Regions from separate parts of the Homo sapiens genome. Here region 2 is linked to region 1. The links come from fine-mapping of genetic effects on gene expression. A gene starts in region 1. The other region holds a variant in brackets. All regions are shown on one strand. Distances are from middle to middle. Region 1 holds the start of IL16 (interleukin 16). Region 2 overlaps IL16 (interleukin 16).

Region 1 (8,334 bases):
ATTTACATTTTACATCATAGTACATGGATCACATACACATAAGATTTATATGTATACATAAATAAATAAATATATATAACTAAAAACTTTCATGAAACAATACCTTTACTACGGTATAATAAAAATAATATAAAATATCTTTGGTATGAAAAAGATAATATAAAATATGATTTTGCTAAGAACCTGATGCAATCTGATGTATGCTATTCTTTTTTTGTTTTAGAAAAAGGAAGTTGGTTCCAACCCGCTAAGTTGATTTTCAATCCACTAGTGGGTCATGCTTGAAAACCACTACTTTCAGGTTTTCTCTGATTTTTTACAGCAATTCCATATGGGGTATTTGCTTTGATTCCTCATTTAGCTCCCTTCTTTGGGCCACTGAATCTTGTCATATGTGCATTGATTTTGCCGCATTTGCTCAGCCCTACTCAAGAGGTCTGTGCTTACTCAGATTCGGGAGCTGGGATGAGTTCTGAAATTCCTCGTTGGAATCTTTCATATGCCGATGCCAGACTGCAGAAAGGGCTTAGATTTCCTGTGGCTTTTCTTTGCCAGGTGAGAGGTGCAGTGAGCAGCAGGGAAGGTGCACCATTCCCCAGCATCCAAGTTCTCAGGGGAGCCTTGAACCTTTGGAAGGGATGTTTGTAGGTGACCGCCTCCTATTGGCTGAGCAAGGTAGCCATGTCTTAGCTGCTGTAACTGTCCACTGGAGGAGCATTTCCATCCCAGCTGCACATGCCAAGACTCAGCCAGGGGCAAGACCGATGGAGATCTCCACGCGGGATCCCAGCATCGGGTCACTGTCCAGCATTACCAGTTGCTCCCACTCAAAGCAAACCTCTCCTCCAGCATCTCCAGATGTGGCAAGAACAGCGCCTCCCTCCTGATGGGCTCCGCCCTTCCACCCAACGTCCTTCACATCCACCTGAGACATCCACTGAGACTTCTCAGTGTTTCTGGCACACACTGAGCAACACTGTCTAGTTTACAAGACTGACATAGATTCGTCCTTATTTCAACAGGAATTCAAAAGAAGAACTTGAAGTAAATTCCTGATTTCAAGCTGCCTTCCTAGTTAACCACAACTCCAAGTTCTTGGAACTATTTGTTTATTTTGCCCCATGCCTATTTTCTCCCCGTGTTTATGAGCATATTGCTATTCACAATGAATTGCTTTTTAATAGCAAAACGTAACCTATATATGAAAATGTATTACCAATTCAAATGCACAATAAAAAATATGTATTTTATATATATATATATATATATATATATATATTTTTTTTTTTTGAGATGGAGTCTCCCTCTGTCACCCAGGCTGGAGTGCAGTGGCATGATCTCGGCTCACTGCAGTCTCCGCCTCCCGGGTTCAAGCAATTCTCCTGCCTCAGCCTCTTGAGTAGCTGGGATTACAGGCATGTGCCTCCACGCCTGGCTAATTTTTGTATTTTTAGTAGAAACAGGGTTTCACCATGTTGGCCAGCCTGGTCAGGAACTCCTGACCTCAAGTGATCCGCCCGCCTCGGCCTCTCAAATTGCTGGGATTACAGGCGTGAGCCACTGTACCTGGCCAGTAGATTTCAATTCAAAGTGTACCTCCCTCCCTCTCACTCCTATACCCCTGGGCCACTGCTGGGAACCAGAAAGGGGGAGGGGTTGACAAAAGGGCAGGTCTCAAGGTCCTGGTCTGCCTCTGCCAAAATAATTCTGCCTTAACTGATTATACATGAGTTTTCATGATAGATTTTAATTCTAAAAAGGTTTCCATGAATACAAACAATTAGAAAATAATAATTCTATAGTCAATTGCATCCAACAGAGATTATTTTTTAACCCTATGGATATATGACCATCTTTGTGTTGAGGAAACTCAAGTATTTATTGAGGCATGCCACAAAGCCAGTGAGAGCATGGATTTTGGAGTCAAGCTGGGTTTGGGTCCTGGGAACGTCTAGCTGAGTGGTCCTGTGCAAGCCTCCTCACCTCTCGGTTTGGGGATATACTCCCTAAGCTCCAGGTTGTTGTAAGGTTTAAATTAAATGAGGTATGTGAATATTTTAGCTTGGTGCCTGGGGCTTGAAGAGTGGCCAGGAAATGGTTGGGGTACTAAGTTTTATTTAAAAGACTCACTGGGGATTGAATAAATGAGCAGTAGAGGCTTCAAGGGTCTGACCCACCTGACGGCTCATGCCCACGTCATATCTGCAGCAGGGGAGGTGCCTTCTACTGTGCTCGTAAATGTTGACCATCACTTAACTTCAGGGTAAAGAAGGAGAACAGAGGAGGAAAAAGGCTGAACGGTCTTCTCCTTCCGGGGGAAACTGGAGAAATAGGAAGGGGAGCCACAGAGACGGCAGCTCCCAGGCTGCTTCCAGGAACCCAGTGGGAGCTTGAACTGGCCTCCTGGGACAAAGGGGTCGTCTTTGTATGGCTCAGCCTGAAGTGGGAGGATTTCACCTGATAAGGGCAGGAGGAGAAGATGCTTCCCTGTATTCCACAGGGAACCTCTATTCTTATGCTGTTACCTCATTCTCCAGCTACAGAAAGCAAACTTGCTATGGACCAAAAAAGAAAAAAACAAACAAACAAAAAACAAAAACAAAAAAACACCAATCCTGGGACCTACCAATGCAGGAATTAGTCACGGGACCCTTATCAAAAAGCAAGCAGAGTGAACACTTTTCCCATGGTCAATCTGCAGAGATGCCCACCCGCTGTGCCCACTTTGGAGAAAAGGAGTCTGGCCAGGCAGCAGAGAAGCCCCCATCAGGTGCCCCGTGGCCTTTCTCTCTCCTGCTGCCTTCCTTTCCTCCACCTCCTTCCACACCCCATTGCCAAGGATGAGACGAGGCTGAAAAGTCAGAAATCTCAGGACCAAATTCTCCCCGTGCTGCAGAGCCAGGTCAAGCGATATCCCTCTGCCCGCTCTGGCCTTCTGAAGCTGCTTCCTCCTGTACCTAACTGTGACATGGTGACACAGAGATTCCTACCAACACAATCCTGGCTTCTGCTCCTGCCCCTGACCCCAGCACCACTTCCAAATATGAAGTTACGTCCTAGCAACCAAGACCCTCCCCATTCAGGTCAGAGAGGCCAGCTTCCTCCCTCCGGTAACGGCCACCTGGACAGAGCAGCTGCCTGACAGACATTCACTCACCTGGTGCCCACCTACCTCCCTATGCACAGTCCCCCGGGGCTGCCATCTCCCTTGCTCCTCTCTCCATCTGCCCAGCAGGGATTGCAGCACCACTTATTCCCGGACAGCCTGTGGCCCAGGCCTGGGTCAGAGCCGGCAAGGATTGAGAAATGGACGCTCAGTTCTCAGACGGAGGCCGGCCTTTGAGTCAGATCCCAGGCTCCGATAGTTGAGATGCCGTGAGTAGGACACAATATTCACCACCTGCTCTGGACAGGTGACTCAGGACAAATGTGTCCCACCTGGCATGGATTTGCTCGAAGACTCCTGATCTGAGCCATCTGACTGCTCCACGTGAAAAGGCTTGATCCAAAAAGGGGGGCTGCCAGTGCTGAGAAGCTCAGCCTCAGAACAAGGTCCACCATCTGCTGGGCTGGCCGGCAACACCCAGGAGGCAAACCCAGTGCAGAGCCACAGAACCACAGTGAGGTTCCTTGGTCCAGCCCAGTTGCCCCTGCCTTCTTTGGACAACACAGAAATGACTAGGAGAGCCGAAAGGTAGCAGACATGACTCGGTGCCTGCAATGTGCCTGGCACGCTGCTAGGAGCTTTCTATAAACCTCATCACATGCTGGAAGCTGTGGCACGTGCCTATAATCCCAGCTACTCAGGAGGCTGAGGCAGAAGGATCACTTGAGCCGGGGGATTCAAGACAAGCCCGGGCAAACCATAGCAAGAACTCCTCTCAAATTATATAAAAATTTAATAAAAAGAGGAAAAAAGTCATCACATACAATCCTGCCATCAATCTGGTAAATATATCACCTGCTTTGCAGACAAAGAAAGCCACTGCACAAACGTTCATTAAACACCTACTACGTGCCGTGGAATTTCCCCAAGGTCACACAGTTAGCAAGTTAGCAAGTCAAAATCCACCTGTCTCCAAAGCCCAGGCTTTTTCCATAGCATTTCATTTCTTGTCTGTGCCACCCTTTCCCAAAAACAACAGACTGGCTCTCAGAAGCTTATGTAACTCAGTGGTCCTCAAGCCAGCTGCATCAGCAGCATCTGCTAGAAATGCAAGTTCTCAGGCCCTGGCCTAGACCTCCTGAAGCAGCACCTCTGGCACTCTGTTTTCACAAAGCCTCCAGGTGATTTTGGTGCGTGCTCAGGTGCGAGAGCCCATGACCTAACGTATACAGAGCATGTTGAAAACTGCAGCATAAAAGAATGGGGCACTTTTGTGTGTGTCCTGTTGGCATTAGTGTCATGAGACCAGAGTGCCTTTCCCCCACGTAGCCCCTTGGAGAATCTAATCATAAGGTGGCATTTAATCCATCTGCCCCGCAAAGAGCATCCCACACATCTCTCCTAAGCTCAGTCTCTGTGAGCCCTGTGTACATGCTAGGCTGAGGTTTTTGTATGGACCTCTCTTCTAAAGAATGGAATGTTTCCCAACGCTCAGCACCAAATGTTTCAGGGCTTCCTGGGGGCTTTAATGAGGGTGTAGGTGCAACCTGTAGGAAGCCCTTGAAATTCCATGCAAGGCTGCAAAGATCTAGCCGCTGCTGCTGGAGAACACAGGCCCACGGTCCCAAGGGAAGCACGGGAGGAGGGAGCACTCTGGGGATAAAGCTGCCTTTGTCAGCAGGCACAGGGGACATTGTAGGGCTGAGTCTGGAGTGAGTCTGGAGTGCAGTGAAGGAATTTCTAAATTGCAGAGAGTGAGCGCCTCTGTCAGTGTCGCCTGCTCAGCTCACACCCACAATCTCTCTCACAATGGCCTGGGTGCGGTGGGGCCAGGACAGACTCAGGCCCCACTTCCATCTTGCTCTGGCAGAGAGGCTGAGGAGCAATTCAGCACCCCAGGGCTATGGGGGCTGGCCTTGCCCTTCTTGGATCCTGAGGCCTGGGAGGGCCCCACAGCCCCCCTCCTCCACTAAGTCTAAGCTCTCTCTTGTCATCGGCACCTGAATCCAGTTCCCGCCTCTCCCTCTATTTTCCGAAGATCTGTTCTTTCTCACTCTCAGAAGGTAAATTTATTCCAAAGTGTAGTTGAGACTTGGCCCTGATTTTTCCTAATACGGGGTGGTTTGTGCTTCAAGGTGGAAATTTTATCACCCCTCTGCCCTTCAGGACATCCTGCAGAAAGAGTCTCCACCCTGCCCAACACTCCATAGTCCAGCTCACTGCAAGCCAGAAGAGACGGGGAGGAAGACGCAGGTGAGAGAGCCCCGCCCTGGTTAGAACTAGGAAGTTCAAGCACCACTTGAAGCTCAACCAAGAGCTTCCTGTGTGATCTTGGTCATTCACAGCCTTAGTTTGCTACGATGAAAATTAGATGAAATTAATTGTCTGCCAGATGAAATTAGAAACTTCTACTGCACAGTGTTACTGAGAGAATGAGGCAATAGAGGAGGAAGCATGCTGCCAACAGCTAACCAAGCAGAAGCCTGCTCACCTTTTTGGCCCTTCCAGCCCACGGAACTGAGAAATCTGTTCAACAAGTGATTCTGATGCTTGCTAAAGTTTCATAATCAATAACCTGTATTTCCTTCTAATTCTCCTATTTTTTAATTACAAAATTTTATTTCCAAAAGTAAATTTTTAATTACAAAAATTTTAATTACAAAATTAAAATTATAAATTTTGAAAAATTAATTTAAAAAATTTTAATTTTAAAAATTCTAATTTAATTTTTAAAAATTAAAATTACAATTACAAATTTAAATTTAATTTAAAAAATTAAAATTACAAAAATTTTTAATTTCAAAATTTTAGTTATAAAAGTAATACATGTTTGTTGTGGCAAGTAAACATATTCAGAAGGCAAAAAGAAAGTGTGTCCTTAAAATGACACAACAGGGTCATCTCCTATTCTGTTCAAACAATGGCAAAATAAAGAGCTTAGGGTCAGAGCAATAAGCCCCAGCTTCTGTACTAAGCGGCTCTGTCAACTGCAAGTCCTTTTACCTTACTGAGTCTCAGTTTCCATGTCCACAAAATGGAAACAATAACCCAATAATCTGACAGGGCTGCTCAGAGGTCTGAGCAAAGAGCTGTCCTGCAATCTATAAAATGCCTTGGGAATTCTTTATGCTGTACACTTTTGGTCATGCGAACTGTATTATCATGAGCAGAATATAATTTAACAATTTTAACTAGTAATGTAACAATTTTAACTAGTAATGTAACATGACGCAGAATATAATTTAACAATTTTAACTAGTAATGTAACAATTTTAACTAGTAATGTAATGTTACTAGTAATGTAACCTGACAGTAATGGACATGATGATAATAAATTCTCTCTGCATTTAGCACTTTCAACTTAGACAGAATGTTGAGGCCAAAACTTGATGATTTTATTGTACGTCCCCACTTACGGATGCAAACACTGAGACTCAGAGAAGTTACATGTCCAAAAAGTGCACGTCCAAGGCTGTGCAGTCAGAAGCCATTGGTCCCTTGATTCCCGCTCCCCGGCTCTCTTCCCCTCTTTCCCTGGCCCACAGCAACATATAGATTCAAACCAAGGGTTTTAACTTCATACGAAAATTCTAGCTGACTTCCATGTAGACCATGCTGCCCTCTCTCTGGCCTTTTTTTCTTTCAAACTGTCCATCAGGCTTGCATCCTTTCAAAGTAATATTCCATCACTAAGATACTTACAATCACGACAAGCAACTGAAGCCAGTCCACAAGCAAATATACCACGCACATGCCAACAACTCCCAAATTCACTTCTCCAGGCCTGGACTTCTCCTTGAATTCTGACTCTTTTTTCCTACCACTTGCTTAACATCTTCAGCTGGGGTTTAACTTAAATTTCAAAAGTAACATTGCCTGGCTGTTATTCAGTGAGGCAAAAAAAAGGAACACTGCCAACAGTACTCTTGATTCCCCCCCTAATAAAATGTTTCTTCCCTAAACTTCCACATTTTGGTAATTGTCACTAGCATCCATCAATTTCCCAAGCCAAAATCCTCAGTATCAAGGTGGGAAGAACATAGCACAGGCTCTGAAGCCAAAATTCCTGGGTTCATCTCGCAGGTCTGTCCCTGCCCAAGTGCATGATCATAGGCAGGCAAAAAGGCACTTCTCTGTGGACTGGTTTTGTCATCTATAGGCTGGCTAGTGCACTAACATCCACCTCACAAGGTTTGTTTGGGCTAAATATGGTAATACTTGTAAGGTTCTTAGAACAGTGCCTGCCAGAATAAGCCCTCTGTGAGTTTTTATTCATCTTGATCCCTCCATCTCTCTAACCTTCCACATCACATCCAATTTATCAGTGATTCTCGTTGGCTCTATCCCCAGAAGCTATCCCACTTTCTTTCCGCTTCTCTCCATCTTCACTGCCGCCACCCTCCTCTTACCAGTGCCTCTTGTCTGATTATAGCTTTCACCTTCTAACTGGGATTCTGGTTCCTATGCAGACCTTCATAATCCATTTTTCACATAATAGCAGGTAGGCTTTTTGAAAATATAAATTGGATCAGCATAAAATTTGCAAGGGCTTTGAATTACTTTTAAAAACTGTTTTTTGTTTGTTTGTTTGTTTTTGAGACAGCATCTTGCTCTGTGGCCCAGGCTGCAGGGTAGTGGTATGATCATAGCTAACTGCAGCCTTAAACTCCTGGCTCAAGCAATCCTCCAGCCTCAGCCTCCCGAGTAGCTAGGACAACAAGCACATGCCACCACATTTGGCTATTTTTTCTTTTTTCTTTTTTTTTGTAGAGACACGGTCTCTCTGTGTTGCCCAGGCTGGTCTTGAACTCCTGGCCTCAAGCAGTCCTCCTTCCTTGGCCTCCCAAAGTGCTGGGATTATAGGCATGAGCCACTGCACCCAACCACTTTTTTAAAAATTTAATAAACTTTATTGTTCTGAGCAGTTTTAGCTTTACAGAAATATTGCATAGAAAGTACAGAACTCCCGAATACTGATCTCCCTCTCCACACACACAATTTCCCATACTATTAACATCTTGCATTGGCGTGGTACCTTTTTACAATTGATAAATCAATACTGATACATGATTATTAGCTAAAGTTCATGGCTTACGTGATGGTTCACCCATTGTGTTGTGCAGTTCTATGGGTTCTGACAAGTGCATAGCGTTATGGATCTACCACTGTAGTATCAGACAGAGAGATATATTTACTGCCCCAAAAATGCCCTGTGCTCCACCCCTTCC
Region 2 (8,334 bases), 110 kb before region 1:
GAGTCTCTTGGTACCCCAGGCCCACGGCCAGCTCCATGCTCATCCCTGTCCCCACCTTCCAGTCTTGATGAAAACCCACCTTCTCTTTCATCCCTTGGCTGCTTGATAAGACTTAAAACAATTCCCTGATTTTAGGGAAGGCCACTGCGTGCACAGATGGTGAGTTTGTGCAGGCAAGGAATGTGCCCTCCACATCACGTGGCCTCCTTGCCCAGCCTGGGTCATGGGAAGGGAGTGTTGAATTGAATCACGTCTTTCGTTGGTAGATTATGTTCATCTTCAATGTTTCTATTAAGTCTAAAAAGTGGATACAAATGGTGCCTCCAAGTTCTTGTCTAATTGCTTGTCTACTGCTTGACAAAATCCAGAATGGAATAGGCCAAACAAGTTAACCAGCAGGACAGAAACTGCTCTAAGCCCATTATTCCTTGAGATGAATAGAACAGTGAGCTGAACGCCTGCTCTAATGAAGCCACTAAAGGGGTTTACAGGAAGGTTAGGAGCCCAGATGGGTTTTGAGTCCACTGCTGGGAAACAGATTCTTCACTTCCTGTGGACCCTGGAGAAGCCATCAGATTACATTAACATGGCTCCACTGATGATGGCCTGAGAATTACTATTGTTTGTGTTTCATCTGTGTCCTTGCCAGGTCTTCCCCCACATCCTTACTTCACAGGATCAGGGGCTGAGAGGAGACCAATACTCTGGCCCAGGCCTGGTCAAGGGATGCTGGTTGTTGCTGATGCAAAGTCACATTGCCTGGTCCTGAGCTTGGCAATCAGGCATCCAGAGATGGCCAAACCAAATATCCCTTTGGCCAGGCACTCAGGCATTCCCTGTAATGTTGTGCACTTAAAGCATCTTGGGCTGATAGTCTCCACCGAATCACAGAAGAAAACTCAATCTGCCGCATCACTCACCAGCTGGATAAGCCATTTACTGTACACAGTGTGTGCCCTCTTATCAATACATTGGCACAGAACCATACACCGTAGAAGCTGCTGTGATCACTAAAGGCAATGCCCGTTTAGCCCTGAGCACAGTGCTTGGCATGTGGTAGGTAAGTAGTAGCAATTTTATTTGATACCCTCATATACACGCTGGTTCCTTCTGTCGGCACACCTGTCCACGCTTTGAGCTTGGTGCTTCACCTGTACTCCTCTGTTTACTGGCTCCACCACCCTTCCCTAGGATTACTTCTCCAATCCAACCAAAAACAATTTTGCAAATGTTTCATGTGACAAACTGTATTTTTCATAAATGACCCCAGCAATATTTCCTCTCCCCTTAAACCCAGGCAGGTTTGTGTCAGCTCTAACTGATGGAGTATGGTGGAGGTGATGCCATGCAACTTCCAAGGCAAAGGTATAAACAAGATGCAGCTTCTACATGGCTCTTGCGATCCTGGGATGCTCATCCTGGGAATCCAGACACCATGTTGTGAGGAGGCCCAGGCCACAAGGAGAGGCCACCTATAAGCATTCAGGCCAGCAGCCCCAGGTGAGTTCCCAGCCAACATCAACGGCCAGATGTATGAGTGAATGATCTCACGTGGTCCCAGCCTTTGCATGACTTTGCATGACGCCAGCTGATGCCAAGTGGGACAGAGATGAGCTGCCCATTCCAATCTCTGCCCACATTGCAGATTCATGAGAAAAATAAATGTCACTGTTTGGGGGTGAATCATGACACAGTTACAGTACTTGAAACATTTTGCGAAGCCAGGCATGAATGTCATATGAAATTCTAATAAATCCATTTTATTTGTGGCACCACAATATTATCATTAAGCTCTCTTTTTACACAGTCTGCAATTTGTATCAGCTGCCCCCGTGTGACTCTGCCCTTATTTTAGGAACAACCTTTTGCTGGGTGGCGTCCTAGAAGGTCTGGGCCTGGGCAGCAGCCACTGGGAAGCCCACCTGTGCTTTCCCCCATCTGGGTGGGGCGGCAGCAGAGACCCTGAGAATCAGCGGTTATGGGAGCTGTGTGTTAGCTGTGTGTTATTGGCTTTGGCTTCAGCATGTCCTGCCTAGGAGTCTCCAGCAGCTGTGGTTTCCTTGGACTGGAGGCTTTTTCTCCTGATGACAATCGTGACAGGTCCATCAGGCAGTGCCTTGATGATGTTCCAGGCTTCAAACCGTGTGAGGCCCTGCATGGCAGTGCCACCCAGCTGTAAGATTTCATCTCCAGGCTGGACTGTCTCACTTTGTTCTGAGGCTGCTCCTGAAATGAGGGAGAAGGTAATGGGTTCCACAGATGATGGGGAACAAGGAAAGTTGCCTCCTCTCCTTGATCTCCAAAGAGCCAGGATAGCTTGGTAGAGAACAGGGCACCATCCCTTGGGAGCTTGCTTGTTGGTGGTTCTAAAATGAGGCATCTCTTAAGATGGTGACTCAGAGGTTAGGGCACCAGGCTCCAGCTCTCCATGGCCTTTGGAAAGGGATAGCCCTTGCTGTCCCCAGGGGAGGGAAATATCAGGCAGCTCCACGCCTTAGCCTGCCTGGAGCACCGTCCATAGTTCATAGAGGACTCTGGGGAGCTGAGTCCTGCCCAGACCCTGCTTTGGACACTGACCCAATATCCTACTCCCTTCACATTTGTTCTCCGCATGTGGTGAGGACATCAGCATTGGGTGGTATGGGAAGAGAGCTAGTGAGATTTTTGTGCAACAATATTTACAGGGATCTTGCCTCTGGCACGAAGTCCTCTGTGTCCACATAAAAAAGGAAACAACCATATATGGCCCCCACTATTTCAAAGCTGCAAGTGAAAACAATGCTATTTTACTGTTTATATTAAAATAAAATTTCCCATCCATTTGACACAGTGATCTTCACAAATCCTGATAAGAGTAGAAGATAATACTAATGATAGTAATGAAAATATAGCTAAAGTGTATTGGGCAATTATTTTAACAGGCGTTGTGCTAATGTTTTGCATTTATGACAGTAATCCTATGAGGGGTGTATTATTTGTGTTTCCTTTTAACAGCTGAGGAAACCAAGAACTCAAGTAACTGGCCCAGAGCTTCATAGCTGCTAGTGGTGGGCCCTGGGCTGGAACCCAGACTTTCTGGCTCCAGAATCTGCATCTCTCCTTCCAACATCACCCTGCAGCTGGCAGTCTCATCCTAAACATTTAAGCAAATGGGCCCATGGTGGTGAAGTGACTTGTCCAAGATCATGCTACCAAGGTCATGTGGCAGAACTAACACTGGAATCTAGTCCTCTTGACATTGAACCCAATGCTCCTTCCAAATTGACCTTCAAAAATTAGAAATATCTTTCCCAGAATTGGGGTTAACATGGATTCTGGGGGGAATGCCATGTAAGCCTCACTCTACCTTCTGGGTTTCTGCAGCCGCAGCAGAACTTCCTCTAACGAAACCAGTCAGCAGCAGGAGCTCATAGTGGGTGAGGGACAGAGCTAAGAGTCCCTTTGGGTCTCAGTCCTAAGAGCCCTCAGACACACACCTGTACCTCTTTACCTCCTTTTATGGATGAAGAGCCTCAGGCCCAGAAGGGAAGGGTCACTCAGCACATTACAGGCAGAGCTGGGACTAGAACCTGGCCCACCTGCCTCCCTGTCCAGTACTCCTCTCTCTACAACCCCTTGCTCTGTGGCTTGGAGACCTCCAATTTGAGGAACACCAAAGAATCAGGGATGGTTTTACATGGTAGCCACAGTCATTCATGATTTTCACAGGGAAATCCAAGTGACCCCCATATCAGACTGGTTTGTACTCCAATCCCTGATGAACAAAATATCTATCAACATTTTAAATAAAGGCAGGAGCTGACGTGTCCAGGACTAGGGTAAGGCAAATGAGGCCAAGTGTGCAGTACAAAGTCAGACTCTGTCTTGATTTAAACTTGGATATTTTGTCCAACATGTTTTTTTAAAATTAATTTTAAAAAACACGCTGCATTAAAATAGTATCGATCTGAGTTACTGAGTGTTTTGGCACCCCTTTAAAATTCTGCCCCACAGGCCAGTGCCTCACTGCCCCACTCTAGAGTCCTGGCCCTGCCAACCCGAACCAAGCCCAGGACTTAGGTATTTTTGAAGACCCATCAAAACAGAGGGGGGATTGAGGGGATGTCTGAGCAAAGGAGAAAAAGTAGAAAAAGCAGAATTGAGCCCTAAAAGGACCAGCATGCCTATGAAGAGGACATGGAGTTGTGGGAAACAACATAGCCCAGAAAGTGCCCAGAAGCCTTTTGGGGGCCTGGCCACATGCCCACAACTGGAGAGCACGCAAAGAACCAGACACACCCCACACCTTTGAAAATCCTGTTAATGGTGAGAGGCTTGTCTCCGTGTAGGGAGCCCTTCCCTCCTTCCAGGCTGAAGCCCAGCCCTGCCGACATCTTCTCCAGTGTCACCGTGCAGACTGTGGCCTCTGCTGCTGAGAAAAACACAAGGTCTCTGTTAGGGATCCTCTCCTCTCCCAGGCCACAGATGCCCTGGGCTTCAAGTGAGCCCGGGGTGATACAGCCCCCGTGTTTGCACACAGGCACATGTAAACACGTCTCAGGCAGTGTACTAGGCAGCCACACATTCTTGGGGTCACAAATTACTGAGTAGCCCCATCAGGTCTGGCCCCAAATGGCCAAAGAGGATGTGGCCCATGTGGCTTCCACTGAGTTGGGAGAACTTACTAGATTCTACAGAAACATCACTGGCTGCAGAGGCTGAGGCTGCAGAGTCAGTGGAGGAGTTGAGGTCGGGCATGGCCTCTGGAGTCAGCTTCCTTGTGACAATCACAGCTTGCCTGGGCTCTCGAGCTTGGCGGAGGATGGCCAAGGCATCATGGTGCGTGGTCCCCTTGAGAGACTTGCCGTTGATGGAAAGAACCTCATTGCCCTTCTGAATAGTCCCTTCCTGGGAGGCCAGCCCATTTGGAAACACTCTGTGAACCTGAGCAAAC[C/T]AAAGGAAGTCAGGACCAGAAATCACACAAGTCCAGTCCACATACTTGCTGGAGGAGGATTGAACCGGTTAGTCAATGCTAGAGGATTTTTAGGCCAACAAAGATTAAAGATAATTGTGTCCTAGATTGGAGCTGCTGGCACAGAGGCCAGCATTCCCTCCTTCTCCATCCAGAGCAGAGATCACCAGCAGTAATGACCAGGTAAGCCCTCAGAATCCATCCCAACACAACGTCCTATAGTGTACCACCACGATTCTAGTTGGGATTCCATATAAAATCTTTTGCTTCACCTGCCCTAGGTCAGAAGTCCCCAGAGTAGTTTTCTCAAGGCACTGATTCTATGGCATATTAACGGGTATTGTGTAAGAAAAAGGCTTTTCCTATTATTTTTTAAAAAATAGAGACAGGGTCTCCCAGTGTTGCCCAGGATGGTCTCAAACTCCTGGGCTCAAGCAATCCTCTCACCTTGGCCCCGCACAGTGTTGGAATTACAGGTATGAGCCACCACACCCGGCCAAGAAAAATTTTTTAAAATCAAAGAAACTTGAGGAATACTGGGTGAAACAAAAGCTCTGACATTGTCTACTTTTAAAAAGCAAAAGGCATTAGAGGGTCTACAATGCAAATTTGCATGGCAGCAGATTTCTAAGCAAAAGGCATTTAGAGGGTCTACAATGCAAATCTGCATGGCAGATTTCTAAGTATTGGCAGGGTATTATGGGGATTCCCAAAGTGTTTCAACAAAGAATTCTTTTCTCATAGAGAAATTCTCGGTCTCATTTGGCAGAATGCATTTTGAGAAACACTCTCCTAGGCAGTCTAGACATTTTTATAGCTCCTCCCCTAGAAATTCTGACTCTTTACCTCCAGTCACCTCTTGGTCCCCTTTCTGCAAGATATGTGGGATAAACAAACACACAAAAATATCTCATGTCTCTGCCTCAGCCTCTTTAATGAGGTCCATTATAATTAAGAGGACTGAGTGATAGCATGCATGGAAACCACTAAAATGTGGTACCTGTAGTTTTGCTTTTATGATAGGAGCAAAGCTCTTTGCTTCTCTAAATTGTTTTGGTGTTAGAAAAATTCTGTTACATGGTTAGAATCCCCAGGCTGTAACATCCAAGCATGAAGCAGAACCTCTCCTCTGAGCCTCAGGTTCCTCAATGCTAGAGGATTTTTAGGCCAACGAAGATTAAAGTTAATTAAAGGAGGAACCTCAGGTTCCTCCTCTATAAAAGAAGCATAAATGCCACCAATTTATCAATCCAAAGTGTGGGTAGGATGAATTTAGACAACAGGTCAGTGAGTGCTCAGCATGGCCGTGGATGGTGCTCTACGTTAGTTCCCTTTTAATCATCTGGAAAGGAAGAGAAATGCTCAAACACAGAAGGAGAAAGAAGCTTTTGTGCATGTGCTCAGCCAACATGTGCGCCTTCCTCCTAGTTTCCTGTTGTCTGCAGTGTCTCAAGGGTGACTGGCCAGATGACGTGGACAGAAGTTGCTACTCATGGACAGAGAAAAATACCCAAAGTGCCATTCCCACAGGCAAGCTCTCTTTCCTCCTCTTCAAGTAGAAAGTAAACTACACGGTCAGGAATCTTTTTGTAATACTCAGCTGCACTCAGTGAGAGAAATAGAGACTTACAGGTTTTAAGTGTTTTTTATGTGATAGAAAACTTATCAGGAAATCAAGGAAGTCACCACTGACATGATTGACTCTGAAGTGACACGCAGGAACATGCCAGATTGCCACTGCAAGGGGGTGTGGTATGTTGAATGCTGGCTGATGCTGTGAACTGGAGGATTTGTTTTCAGTTGGGCATGGAAATTCAAATGAGCCCAGCACAGCCTACACAAAGGATACCCTGAGACAACACAGCCCTGGGATGACAGCAATGCACTCGGCTTTAGAGAGCGAGCAGCCGCAGCATGGCTCCACAAAACTGGCAGAACCAGAAACCATCTGGGTCAGGTACAGGTGACCTGAAGGCAGCAGCCAATGCTGATCAGATTGGATGAGCCAGAATAGTGGGACCCACAGGAAAAGATGCCCATGGCCAGGCCTGCTACCCTCTCCACGCAGCCCCAGGCTCTGGGATGTGCTGAGTGGACAGGACCTGCCCAGTGGCCTAGTGTCATGCATTCTTCATTTCCCCAGCACAGGGCCCCTTCCTGGCAAGTGTGTCCCCCTCCCCCAGAACCATTGCCTCTGGCTGTGACATGCCCCTTCACTTGGCCACTCACCGTAATCACCTTGTTTTCTAGATCTGCTCCTCCTGCCAAGCTGAACCCAAGACCAGCACCTTCCTCCTTGTGTAAGATGGTGACATGGATGCCGTCTAATTGCTGCAGAGGAAATACATACATTCAAAAACATTTTACTGCAAGAGGATGAACAATTTAACATCGGACTGACATCAGACTGATTTGTTATCTCAAACCCCAGCTTGGCCAGCCTCCAAGTTACATCACCTCCTCAAACCTCAGTTTCCTCATCTGTAAAGAATGGACCTTCAGGAGTCATGGGAAGCTTAGAAGAAAAAAAAAATGTATGTAAAGCAGCAAGCATAATTATTTTCCTCTCTCATTCACCCTGTCCACAGCCGGGCAGGGGGAGTGCCATGAAGTCAGCCAGAAATCAGCATATTGGACAGTGTGAGATGAAGTCAGGTTGTAGGACTTCAGGTAAAACAAAACAAAAAAAAAAAACAACAAAAAACAAAACAGGGGTCAGTGCTGTTCTGCAGGAATTGGTTGCTCCTTCTTCCCTTCTACTTCTCCATGGGTCACAGCAGCAGCACTAAGGAAGCCCAGCTAACATCCTGCCCCAATGCACAGTGTGCAAGTGTGACACACACACACACACACACACACACACATTACTACGGTACTTCCTAGCCTAGACGGGGACTCCCATGGAGCCAGGACACAGTCAGAGACTCCTATTCCAGTCTAGAGCAGGGGTCTCAAACTCAGATGCCTATAGGAGTCAGGCAGGTCCCTAAAATGAGCCAAATGGGCAGATGTGTGATAGGAACTGCAGAGCGCCAACGAGTACATCTGCTCAAAGGGTCAGCTCTACGTAGGCATACAGAACTAGCGCTACCAGATCACTTCCCTAAAGTCCAGGTTTCAATTCAGGTTTTATCATGTATAGAATTCAATATTTTTTTCATCACCATGCAGACCAAATAAAGTACACCTACAGGTTCTTGGGGCACCTGTTTGTACCTTGGCACTAAGGAGTAAACTTATGTCAAAGAATTCACTTGCTCAGCGTCACTAGAGCACCTGACTTGCAGCTGTCCCTATGATCCTAAGACTTGGAGCCCCTAAGACCCAAAGGCATGGAAGGATGAATGTACCTCACTGCACCCTCACCTCCAAGCCCCAACACT

What was found.
Region 2: its variant is fine-mapped to the expression of IL16 in whole blood (TOPMed, PIP 0.94).

The regions. Positions count from the first base shown.
Region 1 is chr15:81,191,976-81,200,309 of GRCh38, reverse strand. IL16 (interleukin 16) reads right to left here and starts at 3,431. Exons shown (of 19, transcript NM_172217.5): 1 at 3,158-3,431.
Region 2 is chr15:81,302,497-81,310,830 of GRCh38, reverse strand. It overlaps IL16 (interleukin 16), which reads right to left. Exons shown (of 19, transcript NM_172217.5): 16 at 7,181-7,282; 17 at 4,665-4,923; 18 at 4,286-4,411; 19 at 1-2,226. The coding sequence ends at 2,033. STARD5 (StAR related lipid transfer domain containing 5) reads left to right here. Exons shown (of 6, transcript NM_181900.3): 6 at 1-1,778. Among named protein-coding and RNA genes, the nearest start is that of STARD5, 17 kb to the left of the region's middle. RefSeq lists a silencer at 2,100-2,277 and enhancers at 6,480-7,010, 6,395-7,594. The variant C/T (reference allele first, on the strand shown) is at 4,934.